Linked DNA regions of Homo sapiens. The protein of the gene in region 1 purifies or fractionates together with the protein of each later gene. This does not show direct contact. Each region holds a gene or a part of one and is shown in the gene's direction. Other genes may lie near its edges.

Evidence for each region.
Region 2: the proteins of ACO2 (region 1) and ACAA2 fractionate together in Homo sapiens (co-fractionation; one large-scale study listed by BioGRID). This does not show direct contact.

Annotation. Positions count from the first base shown.
Region 1 is NC_000022.11:41,507,117-41,510,616, forward strand, and holds part of ACO2 (aconitate hydratase, mitochondrial precursor), read left to right. Parts: intron 1-674; coding exon 675-933; intron 934-3,500. UniProt on the Homo sapiens protein: Catalyzes the isomerization of citrate to isocitrate via cis-aconitate.
Region 2 is NC_000018.10:49,796,534-49,800,033, reverse strand, and holds part of ACAA2 (3-ketoacyl-CoA thiolase, mitochondrial), read left to right. Parts: intron 1-2,439; coding exon 2,440-2,568; intron 2,569-3,500. UniProt on the Homo sapiens protein: In the production of energy from fats, this is one of the enzymes that catalyzes the last step of the mitochondrial beta-oxidation pathway, an aerobic process breaking down fatty acids into acetyl-CoA.

The DNA of each region.
Region 1 (3,500 bases):
AGGAGGAGCTGTGAGAGGCCAGTGGCAGTGACCCGGTCTCTGTTCTTGAAAACTGACAGATACTCCTGTCTATGTCTGGAGCTAATGGGCAAAGTCTTAGTGTCATAGTTGGGTAGCCAGGCATCCCAGGCCTGAGGTGTGGAGGGTTGTAGATGGCGGACAGGGTGGACAGGTGAAGGGGATGCTGGTCCTGATTCCCTGTGCCTTAGTGGGGCTGAGGGCACAGAGGGAAGTAGCGAAATCTAGCTGTGAACTTGGTCACTCTCCTGAGCCTGTTTCTTGGTTGTTGTTAAATGGCTTTCTTGGTTGTTGTTGTTGTTAAATGGCAGGAATGATGAGATATGCATGTTGCGGGGACTTAGTAGGAATTACGATGCTGGGAAAGCCAGGATCCTTTGAAAAGAACCAGCGCTGCCCTCTTGTGATGTTGTCATTCACTTACTCATCAAGTAATTGTGGAGCACCTAACAAGTGCCAGGTGCTGCAGGAGGTGAGGAGGTGGTGCAGTGAACAGGACCCAGCAGTCCCCACCCAAGTGGAACGTTGAGGTCCTGAGTTCAGACTCCCTGTCCCTGGCCACTGTTGAGGTTGCCACATGGACTGAGAGGGAGAGGCAGGGCGGGAGGAGGCCGTGCAGCTAGCACCAGGCCACCCTTCTGCTCTTCTCCCCACAGACTGAACCGGCCGCTGACACTCTCGGAGAAGATTGTGTATGGACACCTGGATGACCCCGCCAGCCAGGAAATTGAGCGAGGCAAGTCGTACCTGCGGCTGCGGCCGGACCGTGTGGCCATGCAGGATGCGACGGCCCAGATGGCCATGCTCCAGTTCATCAGCAGCGGGCTGTCCAAGGTGGCTGTGCCATCCACCATCCACTGTGACCATCTGATTGAAGCCCAGGTTGGGGGCGAGAAAGACCTGCGCCGGGCCAAGGTGAGCAGAAGGTGGCTTTGGGGGTGGGCAAGTGGGCAAGACTGGGCGAGAGGCCTCACCCTCACACTGGAGCAAACCAGGGCATTGCCTCCAAATTCTCACACCTCTTTGGATTGGTCTGCTTTTAAAACTTGATTTTACTTGTTTCTCTTTCTAAAAATAGCACTTGCTCATTATGTTAAAAAATACAGAGGAAGCCTAAAGAAAGAAAAAATCATCCTTGACCTTACCACACTGCAGGTCCTTTTTCTGTCCTGTTGGAGGATGATGTGGATCCTGCCAGGTGCTCTGGAAGGGGCCATGCAGGCCTCCCTGTCTGCCTGAGCAGTGAGGGGTGCATCTTAGCATAGTTTGCCAGCATCCCATTTGCACCCACTCCCGCTCTCCTCTGACCCTCCAAGGACCCTCTCCGGGAGGTAGGCGTGCTAGGGTCACTATTTGTAAATTTGAGGCGGCAGTGGCATCATACTTGAGTTCTGTAACTACATGAGGGCACGATTAGGGCTCAATGCTGATCCTGGCTCCCACTCTGGTGCTCTGTCACTGAGGAGCCTCCTTTGGGGGCCATTCTTCTGTGAGTTTTGCTTAACTACATGGGGGTGGCTGTATGCCATGCTGAAGGCTTTTCCCCCACCCTTCTATGAAATCGAGTTCCTGCTCCTTCTCCCAGGCTCGGCTTGTGGGACCTTTGTGTCAGCCTGCTCTTGGCAACAGCGGGCCTCTCTCTCCCAGCTCTGGGCCTCCCCACTCTCCAGCCCCTGCAGTGGGAGTGGGTCCCCCTCACGGGGAGGGGCGTTGGCAGGAGCTGAATGCTGGCAGGGCTGCGGCCTGTGGGCATGTGATTGAAAGTGCTCCAGCTCCCAGGGTCAGCATGGCTCAAAGCCTCCCAGCCCCATGGGAAACACTCGGGGCGGCGCTCTCACTCAGACCCTCTCTTCCACCCTGGCCCCCTGGTGGTATCCTGGCTCCACAGTGGCTCTTTCCCCTCAGCTGAAAGGACAGTCCTGCCTGCCGGCCGGCGGTTTCCACATTAGCAACAACACTGGTGGGGGTAATAATGTTACAGGAGCTCCCACAGTGCCGGGAACTGCACATGGCCGGGAACGTGGGTCCTCTGCAGCCCTGGGGACAGCTGCCCACAACAGGGCTGCTACCTTCTGGGGCTGGCTTTCTGCTTGCTTTATGGGCTCAGAGTGAATCTTCTGGAGATGAGATGCACACTCATAGCATTCAGAGCTCATTCCCTCATGCGTTCAACAAATTGAACATTCTTTATGTGCCAGGCACTGGGCTAGGTACTGAGGTTCAGTGTGAACAAGTCAGGCAGGGGCCCTGCCTTCAGGGATCTGCTTGTGGGTGTGGACACTAAACAATGGCCGAGGTAGGTAACTGCAGATCTGGGTATGTGTTAGGAAGGGAAAGTGCGGGACTTGGTCAGTATAAAAAAGAGGTCTAATTTAGATGCTGGGGGAAAGAGAGAGCTTCTTTGAGGATGTGACAGATAACCTGAGGACTGAACATATGAGTTGCATTGACTGGAGGAAGAACATGCTAGAAAGAACAGCATTTGCAAAGACCCTGAGCCAGGAAGAAACTTGATGCTTTTGTGGAAGTGAGAGGGGGCCTGTACTGCTGGAGTTCTCTGTGTTTGGAAGAGCGGGTGGTATGAGGTGGGCAGGGGCAGCCAGGAACGCGAGGGCTGTGGGAACGCTATGGTCACCATCCTCAGAGTCCTAGAACAGTTTAAGCGGAGAAAGAATATGGTCTTTTTTTTTTTTTTTTTTTTGAGACAGAGTCTTGCTCTATCCCCCAGGCTGGAGTGCAGTGACACACAATCTCGGCTCACTGCAATCTCGGCTCACTGCAACCTCCGCCTCCTGGGTTCAAGCGATTCTCATGCCTCAGCCTCCCGAGTAGCTGGGATTACAGGCACCCACCACCATACCTGGCTAATTTTTGTATTTTTACTAGAGACAGGGTTTCACCACGTTGGCCAGGCTGGTTTCAAACTCCTGACCTCAGGTGATCCACCCACCTCGGCCTCCCAAAGTGCTGGGATTATAGGTGTGAGCCACCACGCCCGGCCTAGAATGTGGTCATTATTACGTGTATTTGTAAAGTGTCCCTCTGGCTAGGGCTCAGAGGCAGTGACCTGTCTAGGGTCACAGAACCAGAGATGGATCCAGGCTGAGTCCAGGCCGAGACTCTGGCACCAGTCTGGGGTCCTCCCACACCCCTTCCTCACACTTAACACAGACGTGTAGTCACATGCGCCCAGACACGACCACAGCCTCCTGTCCTGGATACCAATTTCATAAGTGACCGATTTGTAAATGAAAAAGCTGATGTATTAATTATTAATTGGAAAGAGACTGCTCTGGAAACCCACGTTCTTTGCCATTCTCTTACCTGGGGGAACCCAGTGGGCCTTCAGAGGGCACACACTGGTCTGGAGTTTCAGTGAAGGGGTGTGTGGTTTGAGTGTATCTCATCAAGGGTCCGAGGGCACTGGCTGAGGTCCCTTCTCTGAAGCATCGCTCTCCCATGCCGGAGGCTGGCAGGTCCCA
Region 2 (3,500 bases), on another chromosome or scaffold:
CAGACAGGGTGGCTGCCAGGCGGAGGGGCTCCTCACTTCTCAGATGGGGTGGCTGCCGGGCGGAGGGGCTCCTCACTTAGACGGGGCGGTTGCCGGGCAGAGGGTCTCCTCACTTCTCAGATGGGGCAGCCGGGCAGAGACGCTCCTCACCTCCCAGATGGGGTCGCGGCCGGGCAGAGGCGCTCCCCACATCCCAGATGATGGGCGGCCGGGCAGAGACGCTCCTCACCTCCTAGACGGGATGGCGGCTGGGAAGAGGCGCCCCTCACTTCCTAGATGGGATGGCGGCCAGGCAGAGACGCTCCTCACTTTCCAGACTGGGCAGCCAGGCAGAGGGGCTCCCCACATCCCAGACGATGGGTGGCCAGGCAGAGACGCTCCTCACTTCCCAGACGGGGTGGCAGCCGGGCAGAGGCTGCAATCTCGGCACTTTGGGAGGCCAAGGCAGGCGGCTGGGAGGTGGAGGTTGTAGCGAGCAGAGATCACGCCACTGCACTCCAGCCTGGGCACTATTGAGCACTGAGTGAACAAGACTCCGTCCGCAATCCCAGCACCCCGGGAGGCCGAGGCTGGCGGATCACTCGCGGTTAGGAGCTGGAGACCAGCCAGGCCAACACAGCGAAACCCCGTCTCCACCAAAAAAATACGAAAACCAGTCAGGCGTGGCGGCGCGTGCCTGCAATCGCAGGCACTCAGCAGGCTGAGGCAGGAGAATCAGGCAGGGAGGTTGCAGTGAGCCGAGATGGCAGCAGTACAGTCCAGCTTCAGCTAGGCATCAGAGGGAGACCGTGGGGAGAGGGGGAGGAGGAGGGGGAGAGGGAGAGCTGTGGATTTTTTATAGATTCCCTTTGTCAGATTGAGAAAGTTGCCATCTGTTCCTAGTTTGTTCAGTGTTTTTGTCATGAAAGGGTGTTGTATTTTGTCAAATACTTTTTCTGTTGACTTTTTGTGTTGAAATCCACATTGGATTTCATTGTTTCCTAAGAAATAAGTAAAACTCATTTATTCCAAGTGATATTTAATAATATTAAACTCAATTAGAAAAGCAGCTTTGTGGTATTTGTCAAATGTTATTCGAAGCATATTCTGTTCTCTCTTAACCATAAAGGCCTAACCCCAAATATTTATCTGTTAATAATTTACACGAGATGATCGTGTAAATTTTTTTTATTCTGTTGATATGTGATATTTGACAAACCTTGGCAAAAGAATATCCATTGGCCAAGAATTTTTTTAATGACATTAATTTGTAAAATAAGATAATTTCATCTCAGTCAACAGATGAAACATTTAGTTAGTAGATTAATTGATGTTATACTGAGTTCCTCCCAGTTCCATCTGCATTCAAAACCCTTAACTTATAAATGTGCCGAATTTGTCAAGTTTTGAAAAACTTGAAACCTACACAAAAGTTAAAAGAATAGTACAATGAACATCCTAAAACCCCGTACCTTGATAGACCAATGTTTTACATTTTGTCAAACTTGCTTTTGCTCTTGCTAACAGCCTCCAAAACAGGCTGTTAATGTTTTTGGTTGTTGTTGGTTTTTTTTTTTTAAGTCATTCTTTTTATTCAAAGTGTGGTTCTTGGACTAGCAACATCAGCTTCACCAGGGAAATGGTTAGAAATGCAGAATCTCCGGCAGACCTAGACCTGTTGATTCAGAACTTACATTTTATTATAACAAGACGCCCCCATATGCATTTTAAAGTTTTGGGAGTGGTGGTCTACTCCTACCTCTTACTCTCCTGACCAATCATTCATCTGTCTTCTCCCTAAGTATGCAGTCCTCAGCCTGTTTTACATTAGAATTACTTGGGATGCTTTTTAAAAGTGACTACTGATGCCCAGGCCCCACCTCCAGCCTTTCTGGTTTAATTGATTTGCTTAGGAACTTAAGCATGAGTATGTTAATAAAGCTTCCTAGGTTATTCCAGCCTGCAACCAAGGTTGAGAACCACAGCCTCCGATACTTCCTCTGTTAAGGAGCATACTACTTTAGGATAGCGTATTCCATTTTTAAATAACTCTAATTGTTATAAATTTCTGTCTTATATTAAGGACTTAATGGGATTTCTCTAAGTAGCAATTATCTTTAATATATTTGAAAACCAATTGACTGTGGTTACACAACATTATGAATGTATTTAAATAATACCATTGAACTATACACTTAAAAATGGTTACAATGATACATTTTGTTATGTGTATTTTGCCCCAATAAAAAAATAGAAAAAAACCCAATTGACTGTAGTTTTTATTCAAATTGTAAACACATATTAGATATAATATGCTGTACTTAGATGCATTTTGTCCTACCTTAGAGCCATATAGTTTATCATTTTTGATAGATTGCCAACATTTCCATGTATTTCGTGCTTGTTCTTAATTAGTAGATTTATAGAGAAAATTATTTTTCTTTTCCTTCTCTCTTCTAGAGTTCTTCAGATGCTATATATTTGGCAAGGCATGTTGGTTTGCGTGTGGGAATCCCAAAGGAGACCCCAGCTCTCACGATTAATAGGCTCTGTGGTTCTGGTTTTCAGTCCATTGTGAATGGATGTCAGGTATGGACAACATTTTTTTAAATTCTCTGAAAATATGTTAATAGTTACTAGAAGAAATGTCCCACTGCAATATAACACTTTAGCTTTAGGGAGGATTGCTTGAGCCCTGGAGGTCAAGTAAACCATGATCATACCACTGCACTCCAGCCATGGGCAACAGAGTGAGACCTTGGCTCCAAAAAAAAGAAAAAAAAAAAAAAGCTAATAATGAACCTGAAAGTGGAATAAGCCTGTCATAAAAGGACAAATACTGTATGTTTCTACTTCTTTGAGATACCTAGCGTAGTCAAATTCATAGAGACAGAAAGTAGAATGGTGTTCCCAGGGACTGGTGAGGGAAAGTTAGTGTTTAATGGATATGGAGTTTCAGTTTTGCAAGATGAAAAGCGTTCTGGAGATGGGTGATGGTAATGGTTGCATCACACTATGAATACACTTAAACTACTGAGCTGTATACTTAAAAATGGTTAAAATGGTAAGTATTATATATATATATATACTTCAATATTTTTAAAAGCTAGTATGTTCATCATTCTTTCGAGTGCTTCCTACATGCTAGGCACCCTGCTAGATTTACATTCAATATCTCATTTAATCTTACAACCATCCTATGAAGCAAGAACTATTATTATTATTCCCATTTTACAGGCAAGGAAACTGATTAAAGCCATTAAGGTTACTCAGTCATAGAATTTGAACCCAGGTCTGTGAGTGTTACCTGTGAGGCACTGAATAAAGACCGTGAGGCAAGCAGGAAATCTCAAGAATTTAGGAGAGGATAAGGAAATGTATTTTATTTCAAAGGAAGTGAATGATGCTGTTAGTAGAAGTACAAACTAGTTTGACCTTTTTAAAGGACAGTTGGTTAAATACATTTGTTTCTTTGAGCACAGAGAAGAAAGTGAAATCCAATTTCATTTGTAAAAGTCTTC